2 separate regions of the Homo sapiens genome follow, and region 2 is linked to region 1. Evidence: fine-mapped expression QTL. A gene starts in region 1. The other region holds a variant in brackets. All regions are shown on one strand. Distances are between the middles of the regions.

The links.
Region 2: its variant is fine-mapped to the expression of UGCG in whole blood (TOPMed, PIP above 0.99). The same link has a PIP of 0.9 or more in neutrophils.

Annotation. Positions count from the first base shown.
Region 1 is chr9:111,892,861-111,908,913 of GRCh38, reverse strand. It overlaps UGCG (UDP-glucose ceramide glucosyltransferase), which reads right to left and starts at 12,100. Exons shown (of 9, transcript NM_003358.3): 1 at 11,601-12,100. The coding sequence starts at 11,698. RefSeq lists enhancers at 5,056-5,155, 12,066-12,649 and silencers at 11,656-11,745, 11,856-12,445.
Region 2 is chr9:112,062,878-112,078,930 of GRCh38, reverse strand. It overlaps SUSD1 (sushi domain containing 1), which reads left to right. Exons shown (of 17, transcript NM_022486.5): 12 at 207-393; 13 at 15,898-15,994. Among named protein-coding and RNA genes, the nearest start is that of LINC02977, 30 kb to the right of the region's middle. RefSeq lists enhancers at 1,741-1,840, 5,046-5,215. The variant A/C (reference allele first, on the strand shown) is at 9,183.

The DNA.
Region 1 (16,053 bases):
TAGTGTTTCAAAAGTGGCCTCCACGGTGGAGCCCTTAAAGTGGGGCAGTATTATAAGTGGCTCGGACAGGGTCTTACAAGTTTTACTGGTTTCTAACTAGTTTTTCTTTTAGTGTCTCAGATCAGGGTTTCTGCATTTCCTAGACAGTATGAACTTGAGCCTATGATTCCTACACGTTGCACAAGCTTTCTCATGGGTGTCCATTTCTACCCTCAGCCTAGGGCAGACGACTTGCTTTCTAGGTTCTATACTGGGAATCCAGTTCTTACCTTCCTATAATGCATCTGGCTTGCAGCCTTGACCTTTTTGTTGGGGAAGTGGTGTGGGGGGTACTTTTTATTGATACATAATGTACATATTATAAAGTCACCTGTAAGTACACAGCTCAAAGAATTTTCTCAAAGTGAAACTCTCATGTAACCAGTACCCAGATCAAAAAACAGTATTAGCAGAACCCCAGAAGTCCTCTCGTGTCTCCTTCCACGTACTATGCTCCCCTCAAGGGTACTCACTGTCCTGACTTCAGACTAGTTTTGCTGGCTTTAAATTTTTATATAAATGGAATCCCATAGGATGTATCTTTCCTGTCTGGCCTCTTTGGGTTGCGTTATGTTTGTGAGAATCATCCGCGTTGTTACATTTAGCTATCATGTATTCACTCTTGTTACAGGATAGTTTTACTAATATACCACACTTTATTTACTTTCTGTTGATGGATGTTTGGGTTGTTTACAGTTTGAGGTTATTATAACTAGTGTGCAGCACTGACTCTGTCCTCGCACTAGTACTAAAAGCCCTACTCTTCCCACCACCCACCCCCCAAGCCTTCAACTTTTGGACAAGATGAAGAAACGCTAACTGGATTTACTCTCTCCCACCTGAAACAACCAAAAAATCAGAAAAAAATACAGGAGACAACAGTTTTGAAGATACTGGACATCAAGCAAAGGAAGACAGTGATTCCTATGACACAGAAAATAAGGTAGGCTGGGTGCGGTGGCTCACGCCTGTAATCCCAGCACTTTGGGAGGCCAAGGCGGGAGGATAATTTGAGGTCAGGAGTTCGAGACCAGCCTGGCCAACATGGTGAAACCCTATCTCTTCTAAAAATACAAAAAATAATTAGCCAGGTGTGGCCTCACGTGCCTGTAATCCCAGCTACTCGGGAGGCTGAGGCAGGAGAATCACTTGAATCCGGGAGGCGGAGGTTGCAGTGAGCCAAGATCGCACCACTGCACTCCAGCCTGGGCAACAGAGCAAGATTCCATCTCAAAAAAAAAAAAAAGAAAGAAAATGAATTGAAGAGCTGGAGTCAACAGTCCAGAAAAACAAAAACATCCAGCACCCAACACGGTGAAATTCAAAATGTCTGGTATCTATTAAAAAATTTCCAAGCATGCAAAGAATCAGGAAAATATACCAATGAGAAGAAATATCAATAAATTAAAACCCCACCGGGATTCAAATTAGCAGACCAGACCAACCCACTGCTTTGCATTCCCTCTTGGTTTCTGGAATATGCAGATTTTCTTTTCACATTTTCAGGCTCTGGGTGTGTAAGTGTCTAATCGTTACAGCATTTCCATGTGTTAATAGGAGAGGTGGTTCTCACATGTGCACACGCCACCTCTCATTCAGAAGTAGAGTCTGTACGGGACTCTGCAAATGCAGTGTGATACAGGCTATCATCAAAGTATGTTTGGAACACTTTGAGAGAAGAGAGATGGAAGCATCCAACTACTCCTAGGAGGCGGTCTTTCCAGACTTTCATACTCCAAGTGTGGCCCATGGACCAGCAGCATTGGCAACACCTGGGAGCTTTTCAGAGCTTCAAAATTTCAGGCCTCATCCCCCAAAACTACTGAAACTCAATCTTCAGTTTAACAAGATCTCTAGGTGATTCACAGGCACACTCAAGCTTGAGCAGCACTGCTTTAAGACTCATCTCTGCTATAAATTCTTCGTGACTTCACAGACAAGGCTGAAAAGGCCTGGAGCTCATCCTCTAGGCAAGAAATAACCATGAAAGACTAAAAGGAAGCAACCAGGATCATTTTTGTATTTATAGAAGTTAAGAGAATAAAGTACAGGCAGGGGAGATGGAAGGCAAGGGAAAAATATTGCAAAGGTCCAAAAGAAAGAGACAAGCACACAAACCAGAAAGGCATAAGAAACAAGTGAAAGGCTGGGTGCAGTGGCTCATGCCTGTAATCCCAGCCAATTTGGGAGGCTGAGGCAGGTGGATCACCTGAGGTTGGGAGTTCAAGACCAGCCTGGCCAACATGGTGAAACCCCGTCTCTACTAAAAATACAAAAATTAGCCAGGCATGGTGGCGCACACCTGTAATCCCAGCTAGTCGGGAGGCTGAGGCAGGAGAATCACTTGAACCCAGGAGGCAGAGGTTGTGGTGAGCCGAGTCCGTACCACTGAACTCCAGCTTGGGCGACACAGCGAGACTGTCTCAAAACAAAACAAAACAAAACAAAACACACACACAAAAGAAACAAGCGAAGGAAGCAAAGTCAAGAGAAGGTGAGAACTCAGAATCAAGGAGTTTAGCCAATAACTGATGATGGTATTGCTGGAGGGGGAATGAGGGATAATGAGGGGTATACCTGGGTCAGGCTATGGTAACTAGTGGTGCCATTCATAAAATCTGGGCACAATGAGAGATGGGAAAGAGTAATGAACTTTTGAACATACGAACTTTAATTTACTCTCAAGACATCAAGTGGTGACATCTCATCTAGGAGACCAGAGGTTTGCAACTTGTAGTATAAATAATGCCCACAGGTAGAGATCACAAGTGAATAAACCAGATGAAGAGACTAGGAATCTGCATTTTTCACAAGCATACCAAATGATGCAGGCTGGCAGTAAACTACAACTGGAGAAACACTACAGTAGAATATAAATTCTCCAGAGCCCAGCAAAGCAATAATACACAGTATGTTCTCAATTTTTAAAAATAATTTTGAATAAATGAAGAGTAAATAAATAAACAGATACAGAGAGCTCAGCAGGTAAGGTTAGCCTAGAGATAAAAATACAGAAGCCATCCACCGTAAGGTAAATACACAAGCTCTCTGAGGCACAGCATTCTTAGAAGATGGCCAAGAAGGAATATATTATTATTGAATCAGTAATGCATGAAGGAGAGGCCGGGCTCAGTGGCTCATGCCTGTAATCCCAGCACTTTGGGAGGCTGAGGCGGGTGGATCACCTGAGGTCAGGAGTTCGAGACCAGCCCAACCAATATGGTGAAACCCCGTCTCTACTAAAAATACAAAAATTAGCCGGGCACGGTGGTGCGCCTGTAATCCCAGCAACTTGGGAGGCTGAGGCAGAAGAACTGCTTGAACCTGGGAAGCAGAGGTTGCAGTGAGCCAAGATTGTGCCACTGCACTCCAGCCTGGATGACAAGATCGAAACTCCCTCTCAAAAAAAAAAAAAGAGTAATGCATGAAGGAGACTAAAAGTGGGGATCAAAGAAGCAGAAAGACAGCCAGGATGCAAGTAAAGTGACAGAAGGGTTTATCTGGCCAGGCTGTTTTCTTTCTCAAAGGGTTCAAGAAAGAATAACACTGAATGCTGCTGGAGAGACCAAGGTAAGAATGGTAATGTCCAGTAGATTACATATGTACTTGCTGCTATCTCTGAGCACTTTTGGCAAGAATTGGGGCAGTTCATGGAGGATAAGGGTAGACAGCTAAAAATCGGTTAAAAAGTAAATGAATGGGAGTTGAAATGTGATAACAGTAAACAAACACTAGTTTCTACTGAAACCTGACAGTGAGTGAAAGGGCCAAAGGGTGGAACAGACGGCTTCTAGTTTAATTTTTCTAGTTTTTTTTGAGATACAATCTTGCTCTGTCACCCAGGTTGGAGTGCAGTGGCAATCATAGCTCACTGCATACCACTGCCTCTGGCTAATTTTTTAAAATTTTTCTGTGGCGATGGGGTCTTGCTATATTGCTCAGGCTGGTTTTGAACTCCTGGCCTCAGGCGATCCTCCCCGCCTTGGCTCTCTAGTTGAATTTTTTTTCCTCCAAGACAAAGTTTTGCTCTTGTTGCCCAGGCTGGAGAGCAATGGCACAACCTTGGCTCACTGTAACCTCCACCTCCCGAGTTCAAGTGATTCTCCTGCCTCAGCCTCCGGAGTAGCTGGGATTACAGGCGAGCACCACCACACCCGGCTAATTTTTTGTATTTTTAGTAGAGATGGTGTTTCCCCATGTTGGCCAGGCTGGTCTCAAACTCCTGACCTCAGGTGATCCACCTGCCTCGGCCTCCCAAAGTGCTGGGATTACAGGTGTGAGCCACCAAGCCCAGCCTCTAGTTCAATTTTTTAAAGACTACTTGAAATTCTTTAAAAATTCAAGAAGAGCTAGCCGAAGGGCAAAGAGAGAAAAAGAAAAAACTAATTTAAGGCATGATGGGATCCACAGTATGAAGTAGGAGCTAAGGTCATCTACCAAGAATGCGGTAGAATGAAGATTTAGAAGAGGTTTTTTTAAGTGATGGATGTCAGAGCTAAACACAGAAAAAAAAGCACTGCCAGGCAGCACCGCAATGCAGGTTTAGCTGAGCCCTGAGACTACCAATGTGTAGTAGTATTAGTCCACATGGCTGTGTGATTACCCTCTGTAGGATTTTCAAAGTTGAGCAGCTATAATTATTGGATGGATTCAAGATAACAGGGCAGACTGATACGAGGTGAGGCAAGAGGCAAGATAATGAAGTGATGAACTGTGGGCTCTAGGCTAAATGGAGAATTAAATGAAGCCAAGAGGTGGCAGGTGCTGGACACAACTGTGGGCAGACAGCCTGGGGCAATCATTCTCAGCCTAGGCTGCACATCCATGTCACCTATGGAGTTTTGAAAATACTGATGCCTGAACCAATTTAACCATGTCTGTAGGGGTGAGACCCAGGCAGCAGTTGTTTCTTTTTTTTAAGCCCTTGATGTGACTCCATAGTGCAGTCAAACTTGACAACCACAGGTCTAGAAAGACTGGGTGACTGAAGAATGGAAAGGCCTATAATCCCAGCACCTGTGGAGGCCGAGGCAGGCAGATTGTTTGAGCTCAGGAGTTCGAGACCAGCCTAGCCAACACGGCGGAACCCCGTCTCTACAAAAAACACAAAAATCAGCCAGGCGTGGTGGCATGTGCCTGTAGTCCCAGCTACCCAGGAGGCTGAGGTAGGAGGACTGCTTGAGCCTGGGAGGTCAAGGCTGTGGTGAGCCATGATCGCACTACTGCACTCCAGCCTGGGTAACAGAGCGAGACCCTATCTCAAAAAGAAAAGAAAAAAAGCCAAGGTGGGAACATTTTTCTTTTTTTTCTGAGGCAGAGTCTTGCTCTGTCACCCACACTGGAGTGCAGTGGCACAATCTTGGCTCACTGCAAGCCCCACCTCCTGGGTTCAAGCGATTCTCCTGTCTCTGCCTCCCAAGTAGCTGGGATTACAGGCGCCTGCCACCACACCCAGCTAATTTTTGTATTTTTAGTAGAGATGGGGTTTTGCCACGTTGGTCAGGCTGGTCTTGAACTCCTGACCTCAGGTGATCTGCCTGCCTCGGCCTCCCAAAGTGCTGGGATTACAGGCGTGAGCCACCACGCCCTGTCTGTCTCATTTTTAAATAACTTCTTTTACAGTTCTGTTTTCAAATTTGGCTTTTGCAAGAGGGAAGCCTGGGATGCAGGGAAACCCACTGGAGACAGGTAAAGGTTAAACAAGGAGGGTGGGCTCCTTCCCCTTCAGATGGCGGGAAGCAGCCTCTGCAGCAACCTTAATACAGCTCCTCACAAGTGAGGCACAAGAATTTCACTCGGCTGGGTACAGTGGCTCATGCCTGTAATCCCAGCACTTTGCTGGGCTGAGATGGGGGAATCACTTGAGGCCAGGAGTTCAAGACCAGACTGGCCAACATCATGAAACCCCACCTCTACTGAAAGTACAAAAATTAGCGGGGTGTGGTGGCACGTGCTTGTAGTCTCAGCTGCTTGGGAGGCTGAGGCACAAGAATCACTCAAACCCAGAAGGCGGAGGTTGCAGTAAGCCGAGATCGCACCACTGCCATCCAGCCTGGGCAACAGAATGAGACTCTGTCTCAAAAAAAAAAAAAGAGAGAATTTCACTCTAGGTTTCTAAGGAAGAATATGAATTCCACAAGGGCAAAAGTTCACCTTGCTTAACAACCCCAGAATGTGTTGTTTTTATAATTCCGCTGTGTGGTTCTGCTGAACCAATTTATCTGACTCTAGGAATTTATCTTCCCTGCTCCAAGTCACAAAGCTTGTTAGTATTTCGTGTAAAATTAGGTTCACTGCTATATCAGCAAGTCCCTAACTTCACATAGTCCATGCCAGCAATTTCCAGTGACTAATGACCTTTGTTATTGTTATCACTCATGACTATATTACTGTTTGTTTATAATCAGTATATCATGACCAATTTACTACCTGTATCACTTATTTCAAAAATGGTATTGCTTCAAAATGGGCTTCATAAGCAATATAAAGCACACCTTCTTGTGCAAGCTTAACCTTGCTAACACAAATTCTCTCACAGAAGGTAAAATAACCAATAGTGAGTTAGCTCTATAGGAAAACACAAACTCTGCCCACTGGACAATGGGCTTACTACACTATAGAATGTAGAAGATTCCACCACCATAGAAAACAAATAGGAGATGGCTGGGTGCCATAAGGGGCACCTAACCCAATAAGGAACTAAAGTCTAAAATGACTTGAACGAGTAGGAGTTAATTAAGCAAGATTTTTGGAAGGAAAGAAGGAAGAGAAAGAAAAAAGAAAGAAAGTAAAGACAATTCCAAAGAAAGCACATTGTACATTTGGGGAAATGCCAGTAATACAACGTTGCTGGTTCAGCTCCTACAGAGCTGTGCTTGTCTCATTAAGGAGTTTGAACTGTAACCCGGAGGCAATGAGGATTCATGGTAAGATTTTAAGCTACTGTGATCCAAGATTAGTAATCCAGAAGGATAAAGGCTACAATAAGAAATATAAAATCGAGGGGGCACAAGGCTGCAGCTAGAGATACCAGCGAGTAGACATAGCTTCAACATCTAGGATAGATATGAAGGTGTGCTGAACTAACTAATGTCAGAGAGAAAGGCAGGGATAATGAATCAATAGAACCATCACTGAATACTAAAATCTTGCAATTTCCACTTTGCTCTTTTTCTTTTCTTCAACTTTTAAGTTCAGGGGTACATGTGCAGGATGTGCAGGTTTGTTACGTAGGTAAACATGTGCCATGGTGGTTTGCTGCCCAGGTCATCCCATCACCGAGGTATTAAGCCCAGTATCTATTAACTATTCTTCTTGATGCTCTCCCTCCCCACACTGCCCCTCACTTTGTTCTTTAAAGCTATCACACTATAGTCTAATTCCGTATCTTCCCAGGCTCAGGTTAAAGGGGCTGAATTGCTGGACTGCCTTATTCATTTCCCTGAAAGTAGCCCTGTAGCAATGATCCTGACTGATGAACGTTTGACCACAGTCCAAGGGCATTGGCAGGACTAAACCCAAAAAAGACGTTCTCAATTTACATTCCACTAAGGCTTGGAACACCAAGTATTCATGAATTTAAGGCAAAGATCGTACTAACTAAAAATAATATCCCAAATGCTAAAATTTACATGAAAAACATAACCAGTTTTTGACGGGTAGTTTATCGCAGTTATCCTGACACAATGAGTATGCAAATTCCATTCAAAAACTGTGCATCAGGTATTGAAGTTGCTGTACATTAGAGATAGCATATTTGGGTTGGGCGCAGTGGCTCACGCCCGTAATCCCAGAACTTCAGGAGGCCAAGGTGGGGGGATCACTTGAGCCCAGGAGTTTGAGACCAGCCTGGGTGACAAAAATTAGCTGGGCGTGATGGCATGCACCGGTAGTCCCAGCTACTTGGGAGGCTGAGGTGGGAGAATTGCTCGAGCCTGGGATGTGAAGCCGTGATCGAGCCACTGCATTCCAGCCTGGGCAACAGAGAGGACTGTCTCAAAAAAATAACAATAAACAAAATAAAGGAAATACGTTTGTAGAAAGCAGAATTAACTTTAAAAAAAACTTAAAAAATCTCCAGGGGGCCAGGCATGATGGCTCACACCTGTAATCCCAGCACTTTGGGAGCCAAGACAGGTAGATCACTTAAGTCCAGGAGTTCAAGACCAGCCTGGGAAACATGGCAGAACCCTGTCTCTACAAAAAGCACAAAAATTAGCCAGGCATGCCTGTAGTCCCAGCTACTTGGGAGCTACTTAGGAAGCTGAAGCAGGAGAATCATTTCAGCCTGGGATGCGGTGGTTGCAGTCAGCCAAGATCGTGCCATTGCACTCCAGCCTAAGCAACAGAGCAAGACCCTGTATCAAAGAAAGAATACACACACACACACACACACACATATACATATACACCTCCAGGTAAAAAAGGACCTCTGTTTTACTTGAGGGTAGCTAATATTTAAGGACACATAAATTATTTCCACACTAGCCTAGCACCTCCAGTCGAAAGATAAAGCCTGATGATAAACATTAGGACCTTATGTACACAGGGAAATAATAATAATATGAGGTGGATGGGATAGGGAAGAGAGCATGAAGCAAGGTTTCTGCTTAGATCACTTCATCACGCAGCAACGTGGCTCCCAAGGGCTAGAAGAGAAACACTACCATCAGGTCTAGGCTTTTATACAATTTCACCTTAGGCCCCAACCTATCAAGCCACACTAGCACTTACCATTAAAAAAAAAAAAAAAAATTAACCCATAAAGGCTATTTAACTTGCCAAGGCTATACTCTTTAGTTATTTTTAGGAAATCTTCAATCTCAACAATAAGACTCTTGAATTTGAAATGTCTCTAATCTGAATGTTACCTTTGACATTGTTGGCAGAAATCCTACAAACATCTGCCATCTAAAATAGGTTAAGAAAGGGCAATAGAAGCTTTGAAACATACCCAAGTATAAAGCAGAATTTAGTTTATAATAAAAATATTTCAAAACAGTGGAATAATCAAATAATCATCTGATAAGTAATTCTGGACAAGTCTCTAAATATTTAGAAGAAACTATAATTAGGGCTCTAGCTCTCATATAACGAAGTAAAATACTGGGTGAATTCAGGGTAATATGTGAAAAAATTAAGAAAAAAATACTAAGAGGAAGCAGAGACTAACATATATAATAATTTGGAGGAATAAGGAAGATATAAAAATTATAACAGAGTTAGAAAATGTAAAAGAAACGGAAAGACCTATCTACCTAAAACACACATGCACACACACTTTTCTCCATGTCAAATATATGTACAAAGTTAAAAGACAAAAAACAGACTGGGGAAAAGAATGCTACATGTGACAGAAAACAACCTTTATATCAGAAAGATGAATTCAGCAACAGATTGCAGCACAGGCAAAGGATTATGAGTATGTAATTTACATCTAAATGTAACTAGCATATAAACATATTTTAAAAGTGCTCAATGTAACTTTAAAGGAATGAAAATAGAAACAGAAAACAGTGAAATGCCTGCTACTTAGTGTTTGTAAGGCAAAATGGGGCCATCATACAATGTTACCAGGACTGTGAATATACATAACATTTCCATGGGGCCAATATGTATCAAAGTTTAAAATGTGCACCACTTCTGGCCCAATAATTCCTCTTTCGGAAATATAAATGAGATCATTTCTCAAAGATGTATGCATATAAATTCATCACAGTGTTCTTTGTAATCTAGATAAATTGGAAACAACCTAAACATCCATCAGTAATAATAAATAAATCTTGGTACCTGGTAAACTAAAATATCATGCATCTATTACAAATGATGTAGAGATCATACAGATATTGACATGCAAAAAACGGTCAAGACATTTTACAGGACAGTTCCATGTGAACAGGGGCCTTGTATGTTTGTTCTTCACTCTTCCAGCAACTAGAACAGTGCCTTGCACAAAACGGCTTTTCAATAAACATTTATTAAACAGATGAACTTTAAAGCAGGTTACAGAACAATAATCATAATATAGTCCTTTTCTCTCTTCCCTCTTCCCCTCCCTCCTTCTCTCTCTCTCACACACACACACAGATTGGAAGGATAGTCACAAAAGGTTAACAAGGTAATGTAGTTTTGGTGTGTGCATATTTTAATTTTCTCCATCTCTCTCTATTGCATAAATTCCTTACACAGTAAGCATTTTTTATTTTTATGACGGTAAAAAGTAACAATTTTTTTAAAGAAAAAGAACTCACATATTTTAAATGAACTCCAGAATGTGCTGTGACTAAGCTCACCAACTCCAAAAACTAAAGTCAACAATATCCAAGTGGCATGTTTTCTTTCACTTTCAAAGAAATATCAGTATAACCTGTACCAGCATCATCTTTCTCAGTACCAGGAAATGCCACACTATACTAATAAAATACAGTGTTTCCAAAAGCAAAGGCACACTTTTTCCGCAGTAAAAAGGAAAAAAAAAAAACCAAAAAACTAAAAGTAACTAATTTCTTAAAGTCTCTTCCACTAACATACACTCTATTCTAGTTCATGGTAACGATTACTATATACAATTGCTCTTTTCTCCCCCCAGACTAAAAATCCAAGTGAATCGATATCAGTAATGTGCTCTATATAATTTTTTCATTTCTTTACAGAGGCAGATTTCACCTTAAACAGTGGATATACCAAACTAGCCACATAACCCATGTCTCTATTCACGCCATCACCCAGTTCTATTTTACTTACACGCTTCGTCACAATCTCATAACCTTATTTAGATTTTATCTGCTCCTTCCTTCTAGAATGTAAGACTCATGAGGACAGGAATTCTGTCCTGCTCACCACCATGTCCCCTGGCCAATAACAGTGAATGGTATCTAGTAGGCCTCAAGAAGTATTTGTTAAACAAAAATGAAAAGATGTGGCCGGCACGGGGAGAGTACAAATCTACATAAAACAATAAAACGAGGAACTGAAAAAAGGAAAGAAAACCACGCTGAGATGTACAAGCTGACAGGACTCAAAGCTATCATGCCAGCTCGGAGGTTTGGTGGACATTTTTCAGGGTGGACAGGTGCTTCACACCTATCTAAGCGCATAGAGCCCTTCCAGGAAGAAGAAAATCCACAGAGAGGTGTCCAGATAGCTGTGAGCAGCTCCCAGAAAAGTGGACACAATCACCACCCTAACAGAAACGTGGCCCAGGTCGGGAGAAAAAAACAATACACCATACATCTCGGCCCAGATGAAAAATTACACGAATCCCCAGCACAATCAAACCAAGCCACCACCTTCAGCCTGACACGTAAGAGCAGTCTCCTTTAGCCTGGCTGGGCAGTCGCCTGCAACCCAGCAAACCCTTCCCACGCCCAACACTTTTCCCTCGCAAAGACCACCGCCACCGCCGGTCCGAGGGGCGAGGGAACGGGGGGAACAGCCTGACGATCAGCTTTCTCCACCCCCGCCCGAGCCCAGTCCCCTTCAAAGCGCAAACGTTTCCCATTCTCGCCTGTCTCCGAGGCCCGGACCCCTGCCCCGAGCCCCTCCTGCGGTCCCTCACTCACGTGTAGATGATAGCCATGAAATGCATCAGCCACAGCACCAAGAAGAGGACGAACCCGAAGACGGCCATTCCCTCCAAGGCCAGGTCCAGCAGCGCCATCCCCCGGCCCGCCGGACCGGCCCGGCCCGCTGCGGCCGCCAACACGGACAACGCTCCCGCAGGAGGAGGACAGGGTGGGCGCCCGGTGCGGGGGCGCGGGAGGCGAGAGGAAGGTGGGGAGAGGAAAGGGCGGAGGGGGGTGGGGACGGAAGGGGCGGGCAGGGCCTGCGCGCCCCCGCCCGCGCGCTCTCGCCTGCGCGCTGTCTTCGGCGCGCTCGCGGGCGGCTGCGGGTGCTGCGGTCTCCCGGCTCTGGTCGGGGCGACCGCGGTCCCGCGCTCCGGTTCGCCTCTCCCGAGCCTCGCGGCCGCCCACCAGACCCTGCGCGCGGGCACCTCCGCCGCCTCTCCGTCTCGCCGCCGGGCTCCCGGCCGAGCAGCTCCACCGCCGCAGCTCCGCGCACTAATCAAAACCGGCGGCTCGCGCCCCACTCCTCGGCGCGTCCCGCCCCCGGAACCGCGGCGCCCGCCTCTCCCAGGGGCGGTGCCCCCATCGGTCCACGCCCACCCTGTCGCCCGCGCGCCCGCTGCGGCGCCGGCGAGAGCGCGCCGGGGAGATCGTGTCCTGCTGCCCGCAGGACGCAGGCCGGGCTTCCTCCGGCTCCTCGCTCCCGCTGCCGCCCACCTAGGCGGAAAGCGCTGCAGCCCTGGGCCGGGCTCCCTCGGTGTCGGTGGCAGCTCGGGACCCTGTGCCTGGCTGGAGGCTGCTCTCTCTCCGTCTGGCCCTGCTGTTCCTGGGTGCCCCAGAAAAAGACACGGGTTCCGGGCAGCTGCCGGAGCTTGTCTAGAAATCCAACTTCCAACGCCGCGTCTGCAGCCTCCCCGCCGGGCACTGCTACTGCTCGGAGCAGCCAGGCCCTCCAGGCCACGTTCCTGGGCGCAAGGGATGCCCATTGCCTTCCCTCTTACTGCTTTTAATGCTGTGGGATCTTGGATCAAAAGGGACCGGAGAGTAAAATAATCTCCATGCGCCTCACAGATCTCTAAGCGCCTTAGCGACCGTGTGTATTATAAAAAGAAATTCTCAAATTCAGAATTAAAGAATCAGTTGATATTGAAATTCCCTAAGACTGCCATCCAATACGGTAGCCGCATGTGGCTAAGTGAGGGTTGGAAAGGCAGCTTGCCACTCTGTGGAGTAAACAGTACACCAGATGTGGAAGACCATCTCGTTAGTAAATTTTATATTGATTGCATGTTGAAAAGGTAATATTTTGGACATACTACATTAAATTAGGTAAATTATTAAGTTAATTTCTCTTTTTAAATACTTTGGCTAGCTACTAGAAAATTTTAATTGTACGTGTGGACAGCACAGCTCTAAAATGGGAAGAAATGTCACTTTGGGTAGTAAGGTAACTAAGTATTTGTCCTAATTTTAAGTCATCCCAAGAAGATGCTAGTACTCAATGTTTGTGTTTCTTCAATCTAGATGAGTTTATACTATTTCTGCATTGTTTTATGTTTATTGTTGCAAGTGATTTCCTTTTAAATAATCCATGACCTCCCTTGAGATATTTCAGAATTGAATTCAATTTTGAAAAGAAGTTGTGGCTGGGCGCGGTGGCTCACACCTGTAGTCCCAGCACTTTGGGAGGCGGAGGCAGGTGGAGCATGAGGTCAGGAGTTCAAGACCGGCCTGGCCTAGATGGTGAAACCCCGTCTCTACTAAAAATACAAAGAATTAGCCGGGCGTGGTGGCAGGCGCCTGTAATCCCAGCTACTCCGGAGGCTGAGGCAGAGAATTGCTTAAACCTGGAGGGGCGGAGGTTGCAGTGAGCCGAGATCGCGCCACTGCACTCCAGCCTGGGCGACAGAGCGAGACTCTGTCTCGAAAAAAAATAGATGAATTTAAAAAAAAGAAAAGAAGTTGTTTATTATTGCTGTTTATGGTAGTTAATAGTCACTGAATGATCTACCTCAATCTGCAATTAAATGACAAACTACAACTAGAAGAGTTAATGTCCGAACCATTCCTCGATTAACATCCTTGGCTCCACTGGTGCAGAATCAGTGGGAAAGAACAATGCTTCAAAATCAAATTCCCACTGTTGAGAGTTACTGGCTGATAAAAATAGCAGGATGGAGGGCCAGGCGCAGTGGCTCATGCCTGTAATCCCAGCAGTTTGGGAGACTCAGGTAGGAGGATTGCTTGAGGCCAGGAGTTTGAGACCAGCCTGGGCAACATGATGAAACCCTGTCTCTACAAAAAAAAAAAAAAAAAAAAATTAGCCAGGCATGGTTATGGCACCTATAGTCCCAGCTACCGGGAAGGCTGAGGTGGTAGGATCACCTGATCCTGGGAAGTGGCGGCTGCAGTGAGCTGTGATCGCGCCACTTAACTCCAGCCTGGGTGACAGTGAGTCCCTGTCTTAAAAAAAAGTGGAATAGAATTCTAACATCGAAATAACGTTCCAAACAAAAATTTACGATTGTAGTTAATTCTAAGGCACACTTCAAAAAAACACTTTAACAAATTTTAATTTCTCTGAAATGGGAATGCATCTCACAGTCAATGCCATCTTAGAGTTAATTGGCGTTTTTTCTTTTTTTTTTTTTTTTTTTTGAGGTGGAGTCTCGCTCTGTCGCCAAGGCTGGAGTGCAGTGGCGTGATCTAGGCTCACAGGAACCTCCGCCTCCTGAGTTCAAGCAATTCTCCTGTCTCACCCTCCCCAGTAGCTGGGACTACATTTGCACACCACCACACCCGGCTAATTTTTGTGTTTTTAGTAGAGACGGGGTTTCACCATATTGTTCAGGCTAGTCTCGAACTCCTGACCTCGTGATCCACCTGCCTCGGCCTCCCAAAGTGCTGGGATTACAGGCGTGAGTCACCGTGCCCAGCCAATGGCTTGTGGTTTTCTTTTACTCAAATATAAAATAATAGTGCATCTTAGTGATATATAAAATAATGCTGCATCTTATCATTAAATGCCCTCTTAGATTTGAGGAACACCAATTGCTTAATTTAAGCATTGTTTTATATTCTGCATTTTTTCAAAAATGTTTTCTGGAACCTTACAACAAAGGATTTTATACAGTATGACCAATAACACAAAAAAAGAGGCCAAAGAAATGTGAAAGTAGATATTCTTAAGAGTTAACAAATTTGCTAAATTGAGTATAATCAGTAGATTAAAGATCAGTTATATTATACTTGACCCTAGTTAAACTATGTTTACCCAAACTTCGTTTTAAAACAGCTTTAGAAAAGGGAAGAGTATGAAGACAGTATAAAGATCTGTGGTTGCCATGGAGCAGAGGAAAGAGGGACAAATAGATGACAGGATTTTTAGGGCTGTGAGTGAAACTATTCTGTATGATCCTATAATAGTGTATACATGTCATATATTTGGCAAACCCCGTAGAAAATACACCACCAAGAGTGAACCCTAATGTAAGCTATGGACTTTAGGTGATAATGGTGTGTTAATGTAGGTCCATCAGTTGTAACGAATATGGTGCTCTGGTGCAAGATGTTAATAGTGGAGGAGGCTGGTGGAGGGAATGGCAGTGGGTATATGGGAACCTTCTGTACTTTCTGCTCAGTTTTGCTGTGAACCTAAAACTACTCTAAAAAGTAAATTCTTAAAAAAAATTAGTGAGTGTTCCACTAAAGGTGTTCTACTTATATATGTATACAAATATGTGTATAACATTGGAAATGCTATAAATGTCTGAATAAGATATACCAGTTTGCGGCTGGGCGCGGTGGCTCAGGCCTGTAATTGCAGCACTGTGGGAGGCCAAGGTGGGAGGATCTCAAGCCAGCCTGGGCAACATGGCGAAACCCTGTTTCTACAAAAAATAGAAAAATTAGCTGGGCGTGGTGGCAGGCAACGTGGTAAAACCCTGTTTCTACAAAAAATACAAAATCTAGCCAGGCATGGTGGTGGGTACCTGTAATTCCAGCTACTTGGGAGGCTGAGGCAGGAGAATCACTTGAACCTGGTAGGCAGAGGTTGCAGTGAGCCAAGATCATGCCACTGCACTCCAGCTTGGGTGCCAGAGCGAGACTCTGACTTAAAAAAAAAAAAATTACCAGTTTGCCATCAGATCCCAGGATTTAGCACCTTGTGGGCACTTAAATATTTGTTGACTGAATGAATAGATAAAATGTTTATTTATCCATTGACAGAAGTCACTGGAAAAATTTCAGTGACTTCTGAAATTTTCTGGAAAAACTTTCTGGAAAAATTTCTCAGCTTTCTCCTTTGTCTGTAAAGATTTTTAAATGGTTTTTCGTTGTGAGAAAAATACACATTAACTTCCATACCTCCTCCTTTATCTTATAAAATTAAGCTAAAGAGTTAGAGTAATTACATATTAGTTCAACTAATCATGTCCTGAAGACCTGC
Region 2 (16,053 bases), 170 kb before region 1:
GAGGAGGGAGGATCACTTGAGCCTGGGAGGTTGAGGCTGCAGTGAGCCGAGGTCATGCCACTGCACTCCAGCATGGGTGACAGAGTGAGGCCCCCATCTCAAAAAAAAAAAAAAAAAAAGAGAAAGAAAAAGGAAAAGGGGAGGTTTCAAGGCATCTAAAGCCTTTTAGGCCAACCATTCACCCAGTGAGCTTTTTTATGTTTCAGTTCCACATTTGGGGCCAGAGATGGTATCAGAAGGAATTTGCCCAGGAAATGACCTTTAATATCAGTAGCAGCAGCCGAGATCCCGAGGTGTGCTTGGACCTACGTCCGGGTACCAACTACAATGTCAGTCTCCGGGCTCTGTCTTCGGAACTTCCTGTGGTCATCTCCCTGACAACCCAGATAACAGGTAAATCTTGAATAACAGCATTTGGATTAACAAAGTTACCACAGAATTGTTCATAGGTCCTGATAAAGAGGAACACTGTTGCTTTTTATCATTATATAATGAACTTTAACAGGGAGAGGAGGAAGGACATGGAATTGGAGAGGTGCCTTAAGGCGCCTCTGTGACTGTTATGTTTCATTCTTTTTTCTTTTTTTGAGGCAGGGTCTTGCTCTGTCGCCCAGGCTGGAGTGCAGAGGCACGATCATGGCTCACTGCAGCCTTGACCTGGGCTTAAATGATCCTCCTGCCTCAGCCTCTTGAGTAGCTGGGATTATAGTTGTATAGGCCACCATGCCTGGCTAATTTCTGTATTTTTTGTAGAGACGGGGTTTCACTATGTTGCCTAGGCTGGTCTCGAACTCCTGGGCTCAAGCAATCCACCTGCCTCGGCCTCCCAAAGTGCTGGGATTACAGGTGTAAGCCACTGCGCCCAGCCTGTTATGTTTTATTTTTAAAAAGATACCTAATAACCACAGGGGAGGTCTGTGGGGAGGGGGAGGGGGAAGATACCTGAAACAAAATGTCAGCATTGATGAAATGTGGGTAGTGTGTCCATCCATGGTGTTGGTTGTATAGCTTCTGGATATTTAAAGCATTTAAAATACTTTATACTTAAACAAAAAATGCTTGTGGCTCTTTCTTTCTCAGGAATATTTAGTTGGCATCCTGTTGCAAGTACTTTAAGAGTAGATTACTAGCTAGGCACAGTGGCTCAAACCTGTAATCCCAGCACTTTGGGAAGCTGAGGAGGGTTGATCATGTGAGGATCATTTCGAGATCAGCCTGGCTGACGTGGTGAAACCCCACCTCTACTAAGAATACAAAAATTAGCTGGGTGTGGTGTCAGGTGCCTGTAATCCCAGCTACTCGGGAGGCTGAGGCAGGAGAATTGCTTGAACCCAGGAGGTGGAGGTTGTGTTGATCTGAGATCGCACTCCAGCCTAGGCAACAAGAGCAAAACTCCATCTCAAAAAAAAAAAAAAAAAAAAAAAAAAAAAAGTAGATTACTATCAGGGGACAATGATTGTAGTCCTCCGGCTATAGGGCCCCAGTAAATTCACTTTCCACTCATTTTCTCCTCCCTCTTCACATCTGTGACCCCCACTTCACACATGCTCTGAGCAAATACTAAGCATATTAGCTTCTTGATTCTTATTTCACTGAGAAATTAGAAGTAGTCAGGTGAGGACTTCCCACGCTCAGCCCTGCCGTTCCTCCTTGCATCCTGTTCTGCCTCCCTTCCTGTCCCTGCTCGTGTGTAAGGCTGCCATCCCCTCAACTTGTGCCTTAGATCCCATCCCTTCTTCCCTGATCAGCACTTCCCCTCAATACAGAATTATCCCCAGCATTGCCTAGCATGTTGCAACATCCTCCTTGTGAACGAAAAGAAAGAAAAAATGAGCAGACCTTCTTTGAGCCCATATTTGTCTTCAGCTACTTTGCCTTCTCTCTGCCCCTTTCTATAAAAACTCCTTGAAAGAAATGGCTGTTCTGTAGGCTCCACAGCCCTACCTCCTGTTCTCACTTTCACTCATCCCACGTGGGAAACATACGTCTTCATTGCTTTACTGAAAGGCTCTTCGTTTGATCTCCGTCTTGCCAAATCCAATGGCCAGTTTTGTTCTTATCTGATTTCTTCGATAGCGTTGACACTCCCTCCCTCTTGAAACCCCCTCTCCCTTAGTTTTGGTTCCTTCTGCCTTGCTGTCCCCTCTCAGTCTTCTTTGCTAGCTCCATCTACTTTTATGACCCCTCTTCAGCCTCCTTTTCTTCATTATCTACCCTTTCTGCTTAGGTGATCTCAACCAGTCTTATGGCTATAACTATTACCTATATGCAGAGGATTTCCAAAGATCAATTTCTAGTCCCAGCCTCTCCTTTGAGCACCAGACTCCTATATCCACCCAACTTCTACACATGTCCTATTGAACATCTAATACGCAAATCAAACGGAACTTGTGATTTCTCACCTCTGCCCTCGCCCCCAAATCGGTTTCCACCCAGGCTTCTCTGTTTCTATCTGTTACTTTCTGTCTGTTATTGGAATTTCTGTTCACCCAATTGTTCAGACCAAAAACAAGTCCTAATTGGTTCTATCCCATCCCCAAATTTCTAATCTGTCAACAAGCCCTGTTGGCTTGCTGTCTGAAATATATTCTGAATTCCACCACTTCTCCCCACCTGTGCCTTTTCCACAACTACCCTAATCCAAGACAGCCACCTCTTGCTTGGATTCCTGCTGTAGTTTTCAAACTGGTTTTCTCTTGCCTATATACCTCCCACCCTGGACCTTAGTCTTAGTCTTCACCATAACTTTCAAAAGATCACTCAGCACTCAGAGTGATCTTTTAAAAATGCATTTGGGAACATGTCAGCACCAGCTCAAAACTCTCCAGTGAGTTTCCATTAAAGTTAGAATGGAATCCAAGTTCCTCATCATAGGACATGTCATCTGGCCCCTGCCTACTTCTAATTCATCTCCCCCTGCTCTCCTCCTTTCCCATTAAGCATCAGCTGTCTCCCTGGCCTTCTTGCAGTTCCTTCAATGGGTCAAAGTTTTTCCAGCCTCCAGACTTTTCCATCTGCAGTTCACACTTCCTGGGACACTGTCAACATATGGCTTCTCCATAGTTGTTCAGGTGCCTGCTCAACTGCCATCACCAGCCTCCACGCTAGTACTCTGTATCTACTTACCCTGCTTCAATTTCTTCATAGAGCTTCATATTAATAAAAAATATTAATTATTAGTTTTTAGAGATAGGGTCTCACTCTGTCACCCAGGCTGGAGTGCAGTGGTGCAATCATAACTCACTGCAGCCTTGAGCCCCTGGGCTGTAGCAATCCTTCTGCCTCAGCCTGCTGAGTAGCTGGGACTATAGGCGCTCACCACCATGCCTGGCTAATTACAAAAGGGATTTTTTTGTTTTTATTTTTTGTAGAGATGAGGGTCTCCCTATGTTGCCTAGGCTGGTCTTGAACTTCTGGCCTCAAGTGATCCTCCCATCTCACCTCCCAAAGTGCTGAGATTATAGGCATGAGTCTCTGTGCCCAGCCTAGAGCTTGTTTTCTAAAAACTTATTTTTTTTTTATTTTCTTTCTCTCCCACTAAAATAGGAGCTTCCTGAAGACAGTGATTTTTGTCTGTATGTTTTACATTCAACCCTCAGTGGGTAAGAATGGTACTGATAGATAGCATAACAGCCCAAAATTTTAAAATAACAGCCAGTGGGTGGTATTGGTGTTGAGGAGATGTCTGGTTAGGCAATGAATTCTGGCTACCAGAAAGAATTCCCCACATTTTGGGCTGGAGAGACAAGTGGTGTTCAGTCTGGGCATTTCTTTCTGTGGTGACTTATTAAAATGAATAGCGACTCCATCTCCATTTCCTACTCTGTGGTCTTTCTCATATTTGGATGCTGTGCTTTTCTGGTTTGAAGGACCGTTGCATATTTTTTTGAGTAAAGGGGAGGGGGTTTCATCTTGATGAGACACTTACTCCTTGTTTGGTAGGCTGAATAGAGCTTTAGTGGCTCAAGTTCCCTCTCTCTGTGCTCATGGCCACCAGGGGACATTGTTGAGCTGTTTAATGTTCATTGAGATGCCTATTTTCCAACTCTACCCACTTTAAAGGACTCGTAATTTTAAAGAAGCATAAAAAAATCAAGTTGCTTTGATCTTATGAAAGAGTTAAAAAAAAAAAAAAACCAACCCCTTTCTTTTATAAAAGGAGGAAAAAAGAGAAGCTTATGTGTTGATGTGCAGAGATACTCGTGGTTTCCTAAGAAGTGTGTGGCCTTATTTCGGTAAAATCATGAACTTTTGAATTTTGGCAGATGTGTTAGGCTAAGGATTTGGGTCTGGACAATGTAGCTGCTCATTTCCCAGAAGGAAAGAGAGTGGAATTTCCCTTCTGAGTGTCTTACGTTAAATCTTACTGATGGGAACAGGATGAAAACAAGTGCTTTAAATACATCGCTGACCTCAGAGGACAGTGAAGGTTCTAGGAATGTTGAGGGACAGAGGCAAGTGTTTCGGTGAATGCAGGAAAGCAGGGGCTGGCGAGGGGGTGGGTGAGATGGAGCTGTGGCCTCACGGTGTTTCTGACTCTTGGCTGATAGGCTGCAGACGGCACATTGAACTGAATTCTTCAGGATAGCCCCACGGCACGCATCCCCTTTAGGACAGGGTGAGGAACAAACTTTCATCCTTGATGCAGGCCCCAAAGAGTCAGAAGAGCATCCACATGTTGAGTGTGCTATTTTCTTTTTCTTTTTTTTTGTTTTGAGACAGAATTTCGCTCTGTCACCCAGGCTGGAGTGCAGTGGCGTGATCTGAGCTCACTGCAACCTCCACCTCCTGAGTTCAAGTGATTCTTATGTCTCAGCCTCCCAAGTAGCTGGGATTACAGGTGTGTGCCACCACGCTTGGCTAATTTTATATGTTTAGTAGAGATGGGGTTTCACCATGTTGGCCAGGCTGATCTTGAACTCCTGGCCTTAAGTGATCCGCCCACTTCGGCCTCCCAAAGTGCTGGGATCACAGGTGTGAGCCACTGCACTGGCCTCCTTCCCTTCCTTTCCCTTTCCCTTTCTTTTTTTGAGACAGTCTTGCTCTGTTGCCCAGGCTTGCTCTGTTGCTTACGCAGTGGTGTGATCTCGACTCACTGCAACCTCTGCCTCCCAGGTTCAAGCGATTCTCATGCCCCGACCTCCCAAGTAGCGGGAATTACAGGCACACATCACCAGCCCCGTCTAATTTTAAAAATATATTTTTAGTAGAGATGAGGTTTTGCCATGTTGTCCAGGCTGGTCTCAAACTCCTGACCTCAAGTGATCTGCCTGCCCTTAGCCTCTCAAAGTGCTGGGATTACAGGCATGAGCCACTGTCCAGCTGAGTATGCTATTTTCTTGCTAAGTCTAAAAGCTTTGTAGGCAACATTTTCTTATATAGAGAGAGAAAGAGGAAACCAGAGAGAGGAGGATGGGGGTGGGTGGGGGCGGGGTGGGGAAGAGAGAGAAAGAGAGAGAGAGAGAGTGAGCGTGAGAAAGCCAATACATACGTAAATGTGGAGATAAACCAGACCACTTGTCTTACACAACATGGTGATCATTTGAGATGGAATGTTTATTATGGAACCAAGCATGCTGGAGGAGCAAAGGGAAGAAAAGATGAAAAGGAAATTATTTATTCCCATGTCTTCAGTACCAAGGCTGGCAACTTCTTCAAGAAATTTCCCATCTCTCATTGTATTCATAACAAGAAAAAGGAAAGTACTTTTTCAGACGGTTAGGAAAACAACAGAAAACACAGGAGTGTCCCAGGCATTTATCAGATTGTCACTTTATCAGAGAGGTCCAGCCAGGACTGCCCTGATCCTCCCTGCCCCTGCCTCTGACACCGCCCTCCACAATGGGATGTCCTCAGGGAAGACTGTGCAGGACTAGGTCTCTTGGTTTCTTTTACCGAGGCTTCTCTTTCATGGTTGGTTACCCACAAACCATCCAAGGATGCTGTACCCCTGTGTCCTCAGTGAGAAACCCATCTCCCCTGGCTGGTTCCAAGGTACCACACTTATCCCTGGGGGCCCCCCTGGCTCCAAGGGGGCTGAAGCTGTACCACAGGTCAGCAGAGGGACTGGCCTTCATGCCAGCTGTTTTCCTTTCCAAGTCTTCCGTGGACACAGGCTCTTTTGATATCTGGAGCCCTAACATTAGGTCACGCTAGGAGAGGCATGTTTGCCCTTCCATGCTTCCACAGTCCACGTATTTCTCTCATTCCCAGAAATCTCCCAACTGCTTTCTAGCTTCAAAACAAACCCCAAGCCCCCAAGTAAATGGCTGTGTGGGGATGGGTGTCTCCCAGACCCTCTTGCTACCAGCATCTGAATCTCAGCCAAAGTTAGCTTTTATAAAACGTGCATGAGAAGGTATTCTTAGATCAGAAGCCTGGAAACTAGGGTTTCTGTGTGTGTTGGGAGAGGGGGAGGGGCTTGCTGAGCTGTAACAATTTAATTTAGCAAATATTTATTTATTTACTTGTATTTGTTAAAAATGAGATGGGTTGGCCAGGCACGGTGGCTCATGCCTGTAATCCCATCCCAGCACTTTTGGAAGCTGAGGTGGGTGAGTTCGAGACCAGCCTGGCCAACATGGTGAAACCCAGTCTCTACTAAAAATACAAAAATTAGCTGGGTGTGGTGTGGGTGCTTGTAATCCCACCTACCTGGGAGGCTGAGGCAGGAGAATCTCCTGAACCCGGGAGGCAGAGTTGCAGTGAGCTGAGATTGTGCCACTGCAGTCCAGCCTAGACAACAGAGTGAGACTCCGTCTCAAAAAAAAAAACAAAAAAAAAAAAAAAAGAGAAAGAAAGAAATAAAAAAGAATAAAAATAAATAAATAATAAAAGGAGATGTCTTGAGAAGTCACTAGCAAATATTTTTCGATTGGTTATGTACAAAGACCTGTGCTGCCTACTGAGGATGTACATGTGAAAAGAAATTGGTTTCTTCTCCTTGGGAGGTGAAGTCTCATAACTTTATTGATGGAGAAGATATATCTAGCTGATGACTTGTAGTGGAAGACACTATTTTTTCTGTTGCCTTCAATTTTAATTTACCATGCCTTGGATGGGATGATATATCTGGAGAGGTGCCTGAGGATTAGAAAAGAACCATCATGCTGTGTTTATTTTTCTACCTACTTTTTATTATAGAAAATCCAGAAAAGTAGCATTGTACTGGGTTTTTGGGCGGTGGAGTTGTGTTTTAATTCAATTGTTTGTGTTTACTTGAAGTTTGCAGTACAAAGTTGGAGACGTTGCTTAGTTTTGATGCAGATAAAATTTTCTTCCATTTTTGGTTCTTTTTGTTCATTTTGATGGGTTTTACATAGAGACATTTTAACACATTTGTACTTATACTACCCTTTTTCTTTGGTTGATTTAATAGTTTACCTTCATTAGTGATATTAATATTTTGATAAATATTACAAATTCCTACTCCAAGGCTATTTACTCTTTTGTTTTCTTTTCAATTTTTTTTGAGACTGAGTTTCATTATGTTGCCCTGGCTGGAGTGCTGTGGCACAATCATAGCTTACTGCAGCCTCAAACTCCTGGGCTCAAGCAGTCCTCCTGCCTCAGCCTCCCAAGTAGCTGAGACTACAGGTGCATGTCACCACACCCTGCTAATTTTTTCTTTTTGTAAAGATGAGGTCTTACTATGTTGCCCAGGCTGGTCTCAAACTCCTGAGCCCAAGCAATCATTTTTGCCTAGGCCTCCCAAAAAGCCAGGATTATAGGTGGGAGCCACTGCACCTGACCTACTTTTTTGCACTTAAAATTTAGTTTCAGGCTGGGCACAGTGGCACATTCCTATAATTCCAGCGCTCTAGGAGGCTGAGGAGAGAGGACTGCTTGAGTCCAGGAGTTCAAAGCTGCAGTGAACTATGATCATGCCAGTGCACCCCAGCCTGGGCGACACAGTGAGACCACTTTTCTACAACAAACAAACAAACAAAACCAAAACAAAACCACTTAGGTTCATTTGGAATTTATTTTGATGTCTGATATGAGGCTAAATTTACATTGTAATTTTTCTCCCCAGCTGTAAGCCAGTTCCCTATCACCTTTGGAACTACTGACCATCCATGCCACCTGGTGCATTTCTTTGGGTCTCTTTCCAGACTGTCTAGCTTTTTTTCACTGTTTGTCTGTCCTGTGCGTGTACTTTACTATTTCAATTGCTGTAATTTTATGATACATTTAATATTTTTTTTTGCAGAGCAAATTCTCCTTCATTACTTTTCCCCACATTTCCCTCCATGTGAGGATTTCTTTTGCCATTTGCTTCTAGCAGAGGAGGGATATTCCTGACATCCGAGGATGGTAATGAAGGTCTCTGTTCTGGTTCCTCTCCCATCTCACACACCCAAGGTGAAAGAGCTATATTTTCCAGCACAGGCAGGACCCATTTCTTGCCTTGGGTCTAAATCAGTTTAAATCAGTAACGAGGTTGATGGAAAGGAGAGCAGGTCTACCCAGGACATCAGTTTGGGAGACAAGGAAGAGCACCTTGGAAAATTCAGCTGAAAGTCAAGTTTGTTCCACCTCGAAATGTGGCTGAGAACCAGCCTGACGAGGCTTAGGCTTGTACATTGGAGAGAAAAAGTAGACTGTTTAAAATATAAGGCAGCGGCTGGGCGTGGTGGCTCATGCCTGTAATGCCAGCACTTTGGGAGGCCGAGGCAGGTGGAATCACCTGGGGTCAGGAGTTCGGGACCAGCCTGGCCAACATGGAGAAACCCCGTCTCTACTAAAAATACAAAAATCAGCCGTGTGTGGTGGTGCATGCCTGTAATCCCAGCTACTCGGGAGGCTGTGGCAGGAGAATTGCTTGAGCCCGGGAGGCGGAGGCTGCAGTGAGCTGAGATCACACCATTGCACTCCAGCCTGGGCGACAAGAGCGAAACTCCATCTCAAAAAGCAAAAGCAAAAACAAAAACAAAAACAAATAAAATAAAATATAGGGCAGGGAGACCTTAGGCAAACAGAGCAGAAAATGGTCTCAAAGTCACATGTTGATTGAACCAGATGACTGTGGTGCCTTGAAAACTGTGACTCTAGATTGGGAAAGAGTGACATCACCTGGACCAAGCAGGGGGATGGCCTTCCTGCTCGGTCTGCAGTTGCCTCTTCTGAGCTCAGTGAGTACTTTGTTCTGCTTCTCCTGTGTGGTTTTAAAATGTTAGCCA[A/C]GAGATTAGAGGAACTAGAATTATTACTCTTGGAGTAAAGAGCTGGTGGGGGCGGGGCGGGGTGGGGTGGGGCGGAGTTCTCACACAGAAAAGAGTGACCAGTTAATCTCCACCTTGGCTGAGAAGAGGAGACACGTAATAAAAAAAGTTAATTTTACTGTGACAACAAAACGTCACAAGTGAAAGGGCATTTCGGTGATAGCAAAGGGCCTGAGGGCAGTTCGATCTCAAAGGGGAAGGGGTACGTTCCCAGGGGACATGTGTGGGCTTTTCCTCTCTCCTCCATCACTGCCACAGGAATCCAGCTGTTGTCTTCTCAGCTGTATCCTACAGAATCTCTCTCTGGACTGCTCTTGAAAATAGCATAGACCTTCATTTCAACAAATGAGTGATGTGAGGCCTAGACTCTAAGCAGAGGCTTTTCCAGGTGACCTCCTGGGACACCTGGCAATGCCGCAGGTTTAGGAAAAACATGATCTATATTGCAGTGTCTAAGAGACTCTGGGAGAAATTCTAGACCTAACACTGTTTCATAAAGGCCACAGAGTTCTCTTACTCTTCCACCTGGTCTTAGAGCCTGGGTTTCTCGGTGGTCCGCCCTTGGCCCCCATCTCTCCTCACATACTTTGATACTGGCTCCCTGGTGGCCACGTTCACTCCTCCCTGTGAGCTGCCTCTGTATCTCCACCATGGGGTTTGCTCCTAGGCTCCAGACCTATGTTTCTAACTGCCTGCTGGAGGATTCCTTATACACTTCAACCTGAACAGACCTAGAAGTGAGCTGCTTCTCGTCTTCCCCCAGACTTGGTAAATGACATCACTGCTGACTTGGTTGCCAGATTCCTGCCGTCTCTCCCCTGAGCAAGGTTTCCGTTTGTTCCCTCTTCTCCATTCTCAGTGCTCTCACTTGCAGCAGACCTCGAGCACTTCCGACCTGGATTATTGGACAACCTGTATTTTTGCCCTTTTTCTATTCATCCTTTGATCAGCTCTCTAAGTTGTATTTTTGAAGTGCAGAACGGCTAAAAATATTTTTTTTTTTTTTTTTTGAGACAGGGTCTAGCTGTTGCCCAGGCTGGAGTGCAGTGGTGCAATCTTGGCTCACTGCAACCTCTGCCTCCCGGGCTCAAGCAATCCTCCCACCTTGGCCTCATGAGTAGCTGGGATCACAGGTGTACACCACTGTGCCTGACTAATTTAAAACATTTTTTGTAGAGACAAGGTTTCACCATGTTGCCCAAGCTGGTCTTGAACTCTTGGCCTCAAACAACCTGCTTGCCTCAAGTGCTGGGATTACAGGCATGAGCCAGTGCACCCAGCCTGCTAAAAATCTTTCAATGGCTTCTTATTACTTCTGGAACCTCAGATCTCTCAGATCTGACCCACACCTACCCCTCTAACTTGACCACCTACTTCTACTCTGCCAGACCTCAACCTTTCAGCCAGGAACTCCATGTAGTTCTATCCCTCCCTGCCACCACCTCATGCCTCTGCAGATGTCTATTTCCGTGTTTGATAGGCTCAGCTCCCTGCCTTCAGTTAGATGTTCCTCCTCACATCCACAGTGCTCTGTATATAACTCCATCACAGCTCTGGGCACTACCTTTACAAAACTGTCTCCATGATTACACTCCAAGCTCCCAGAAAGCAGAAAGCATGTCTTCTGTGCTTGTCTCCCCCAGCCTAGCACAGAGCCTGCGGCAGAGGTGGCTAATGGGTGTTTGTTGAATGCAGATATATGAATAATATATATAGTAGTGCTTTAACAACTGTAAAGGTCCAGGCAGGTCTAAGTTTTTATTTATTATAATTTGAGATTGAGGGTTTCTACCCCAAAGCTATTTTCTAATCTGGTAAATACAGTCTTGAGAATCTATTTTGGCCTCAGAGTCCTTCAGTTCACAGTGGCAGGGTTTAGGGCTAGGGTGGGGGGATTGGGGGGGAGGCATTCATACATATGTTTTTAATAGCTCTTTCTCTTTCCTTCCATCATGCCCTTCCTCCCTTGCCCTACTGAGCTGATGCAGTGATAGACTTTGAAGGAGGGGTGGTTTAGTCCAGGGTCTAAAGGGGATTCTTAAGGCAGTTCTTCCTGCTGTCCTCACTGTCTCCACCACCCAAGGGGTTTAGCATTTGCCTGGAATTCACAGCAATTCTTCTTGCACAAATGCATAAGGACCACTTCCCTACCGTGTTCACTTGGCCTAGCACCAGAGTTCCTGCCAGTACACAGCTGAGGGTTCTGCCTTTCCACAGAATACCAAGGCGCTGGATGCATTCTATAGTCAGGGCTCTTTTGGTTGCAAGTGACAGAAACCCAACTCCAACCAGCTTAAGCATGTGGAATCTGTGGGATCACAGAACTGGGAAGGCCCAGGATGGATCTTGTTTGGAGACAGCAAGCTTCAGTCACACGTGGTGTCACCACAGGCCCGTTGCTCTTCCAGCCATGAGGCCCTCTTTCTGCCAAATTCTTCCAGCCAGACCTGGGAGGATGGACATTGTACTATTGGCCTACCTGGTACTTACAGCTACAATCTAAGAAGAAGAATAAAACCCTCCAATCTTCTAGGCCTGGTGTGGTGGCTCACGCCTGTAATCCCAGCACTTTGGGAGGCAGAGGTGGGCGGATCACCTGAGGTGAGGAGTGTTGAGACCAGCCTGGCCAACATGGTGAAACCCCATCTCTACTAAAAATACAAAAATTAGCTGTGCATGGTGGTGTATGCCTTGTAGTCCCAGCTACTCGGGAGGCTGAGGTAGAAGAAGAGCTTGAACCTGGGAGGCAGAGATTGCAGTGAGCCAAGATCATGCCACTGTACTCCAGCCTGGGTGACAGAGTGAGACTCCATCTCAAAAAAACAGATAAACAACAAAAAATAAAACCTCCAATCTCCTAAACAGATTGCTCTTTTTGAGCCATCTTCTGACTGGGGAATGGCAATCCATAATCACTGGGCCCTGGGCCAGTGGGGATTTGGAGTACTGGGAATGCTGGCCCCATAAGAACCATATGGGAAGGAGAAGGGCCGCTCTCCACAGAAAAAGGGATGCTGAGCACTTACATATAAAGTATGTAACATATGAAAAGACAACACGTACGGACTCGGAGAATCTCAGGCACAAGGTGTCCCATCTTTGGGAGTTTCGCGATTACAGGGTTGCAGCTTTCCATGGTCTCTTCCAGGTTTGTTTTCTTTCAAGCCCCGTTCATTCAGCAGAATGCCACTCCAGACCTGACTTAGGAACACTGCCTATTTCGCCTGGCTTCTGTTGCCACTCTCTGTGCTGTAAGGAACCCTCTTTCTATATTACAAGTCACAGTTCCCTGAATGACATTTCCTGTGTACTCAAGCTGGGAAGGAGCTAAACCTGTCCCTATGGTCTCCCTCCTGGGGTCATTTCTGAGTTTTTTCTTTTCTATTCATCCCTTCCCTTTGAACTTGCTAATTAAGAGATCCTTGGTGTTTGACACCCCAGGACCCCCAAGCTCTGTTCCTTACGGTCTCAGGCACAGAGGTCTCTCATTCCTCAGGGATTTGTAATTCCAGGTTTCTACTTCTAGGTCATGGTTTAATCTCAGGTAAAGTGAACGCAAGCATTGTCATGGCCTGGCAATGTAGCGAAGGAGACTTTGGAGTCAAATTACTGAGTTCCACACTTGGCTCGGCCGGCCGTCTTCTAGTGGTGTGACTCGGCCTGCCTGAGCCTTGATTTCCTCACTGATAAGATAGAGATGATTGTCACGCAGAGCTGCTGTGAGTATTTGTTGAAACAGCAGAGGCAAAGTTCCTAGCATAGAATTGGCAACTAGTAGCTCAAGTGATATCATACAGGTGCCAACAGGCGCTGACGGCTGCTGTGTTCCAGGCACTGTTTTATTCTCTTTACTTGTGTTGACTCATTAACTATTATTGTTAATCATTATGAATTGGCTCATTAATTCCCTCAACAGGCCTAACAGGTAGAGGTTGTTTCTACCCCTATTTAACAGATGAGGCTGCTGGAGGTATAAGTGATAGAACCAGGATAGCAACCCAAGTCCTGTGTTCCTACCCACTACATCGTATTATTTCTGCAGTTTAACTGTAGTCTAGCTTCTCTGATGTGAGCCACACTGGGTAGACCTCTAACTCTGCAGTAATTGTGGCAAGTGGATCATTTTATTGGAGCTGATGTGTTTGTAAAATCTTTGGGGATTCAGTGTTTTTATTTTTACTTTTTGAGACAGAGTCTCACTTTTTCGCCCAGGCTGGAGTGCAGTGGCACAATCTCGGCTCACTGCAACCTCTGCCTCCCAGCTTCAAGCAATTCACCTGCCTCAGACTCCTGAGTAGCTGGGATTACAGAGGTGTGCCACCATGCCTGGCTAATTTTTGTATTTTTTTACTAGAGATGGGATTTCACCATGTTGCCCAGGCTAGTCTCAAACTCCTGACCTCAAGTGATCCGCCCACCTCTGCCTCCCAAAGTGCTGGGATTACAGGCATGAGCCACTGTCCCTGGCCGGTGTTTTTAAAGTAGAGTTTGTTAGTTCACTCAAAGGGGATGAAAATTTGCCAGATCAATTGGTAGAACCAAATGTTTAAGATACCCCAAGGTGAATGAGAGGGGTGTGTAAGCAGAGCGTGAGTTCACATTCTGACTCTACGACTTGCTAATCGTGTGGCCTTTGGACAAGTAACAATCTGTCATGTATCAATTTCCTCATCTATAAAATGAGTTTTTCTGAGATAATAACTGTACTTGTTCCACCTCTGAGATTAGGGAAATTGAAGAAGATACATAAGCGTTAGAAAGGGATCAAAGTAATCAGTTTTATTGCTGGTAAAACTGGTTTGGGTCTGAGGCTTCTTTTTTTTTTTTTTTTTCTGAGACAGAGTCTCACTCTGTCACCCAGGCTGGAGTGCAGTGGCATGATCTTGGCTCACTGCAACCTCTGCCTGCCCGGTTCAAGCGATTCTCCTGCCTCTGCCTCCTGAGTAGCTGGGATTACAGGTGCCCGCCACCACGCCTGGCTAATTTTTGCATCTTTAGTAGAGACAGAGTCTCACCATGTTGGCCAGGCTGGTCTCAAACTCCTGGCCTCCGGTGATCCGCCTGCCTTGGCCTTCCAAAGTGCTGGGATTACAGGCGTGAGCCACCGCACCCCCGCACCCGGCCAAAATGAAGCTTCTTGAACTTCCTCCCACGCCTACACTTTGTGCCCCACCTATGGGGAAGTGGAAGCTATAATGCAGTGGTCCCCAGCCTTGTTGGTGCCAGGGACTGGTTTCATCAGAGACAGTTTTCCAACGGACTGGGGTGGGTAGGGGGATGGTTTCGGGATAAAATTGTTCCACCTCAGATCATCAGGCATTAGATTCTCATAAGGAGTGCACAATCTAGATCCCTTGTATGCACAGTTCACAATAGGGTTCATGCTCTTATGAGAATCTAATGCTGCCACTGATCTGACAGGAGGTGGAGCTCAGGCAGGAATGCTTGTCCACCTGCTGCTCACCTCCTGCTGTGTGGCCTGGTTCCTAACAGGCCACAGACTGGTACTGGCCCACCACCTGGGGTTGGGAACCCCGGCTATAGGGCAAATGTAGACCAGGCTTCAGGCAGGTGACTCAGGTTTGCCTAGAGATGGACAGTAGGACTGGGAGGTGGGAAATCACCTGTCCTGCATTCAGGCAGCCCCCACCCGCCCCCCCCCCAAAAAAAGAAAGAAAAATAAAAAAATAAGGATGGGGCTACATGGGAACTAGCTGTTTCACAAATCACAGGGATGGATAGAAGGCCAGGTGGAAGCTCTTTTCCTAATACTTTGGAGAGGGAAGAAGTTCCTACATTGCATGGGTAGGAACCCCAAGAGAGGAAGCAAATGATTGCTTCTATAAACATCATCCACTTGGTAGCCCTGTTGAGAAGATTAAGTAAGATGGGGCATATGTAGAACATCTCTAGTGTGAATGGTTAGTGCCCAGTATGTCTTACTTAGCGTGTTACCCACAAGGCAGAATGGCAGTTAGCACATTTATACCATGACTGTAACTACCAGTGAGCAAGAACGCTGGTGTCAGCCAGTCAGTGTAGTTTCCTCCGGATGGAAAACCTATTTGGGAAATCTTGTTGCTGGGGGCGGGAAAATAAGGACAGAGAGCTCTGTGATTATAAAGGATATTGAAGGCTGATGTGGTGGTCTTCCCTACCAAGTAGGAATCTACCCACCAAGCAAACTGTAATACTCACCACATCTATCCTCTGCCAGTGCCATGATATACTCATCACTTCTTTTTATTGTGGCAAAATACACATCACATAAAATGTGCCATTTTAACATCTTGAAGCACACAGTTTATTGGCATGTTGTGCAACCCTCACCACTGTGTATTTCCAAAATTTTTTCATCACCCCAAGGAGAACCTCTGTGACCATTAAGCAATATGTTCCCATTCCCTACATGCCCCCTCCACCCCCAGCAACTTCTTCTGTCTCTATGAATTTGCCTATGTTAGATTTTTCATCTAAGTGGAATGATAGAGAATCTGTCCTTTTGTGCCTGGTGTATTTCACTTAGCATGTTCTTCCACATTGTGGCATGTACAGAATAGGCTCCTCGCTTCTGAAATTAAAACTTTCTTTTTGATAGCCCTCACGAGGACCTCTTTTGTCCTGCTGTTTACTTGTTCCAATCATACCCCTTTTCTTCTTTTCAACATGTTTTCAGAGCCTCCCCTCCCGGAAGTAGAATTTTTTACGGTGCACAGAGGACCTCTACCACGCCTCAGACTGAGGAAAGCCAAGGAGAAAAATGGACCAATCAGGTCAGTAGCTGTCCTTTCTCCACGGTTGCCCAGTGATCCCCATGGAGTGTTTTGGAAAC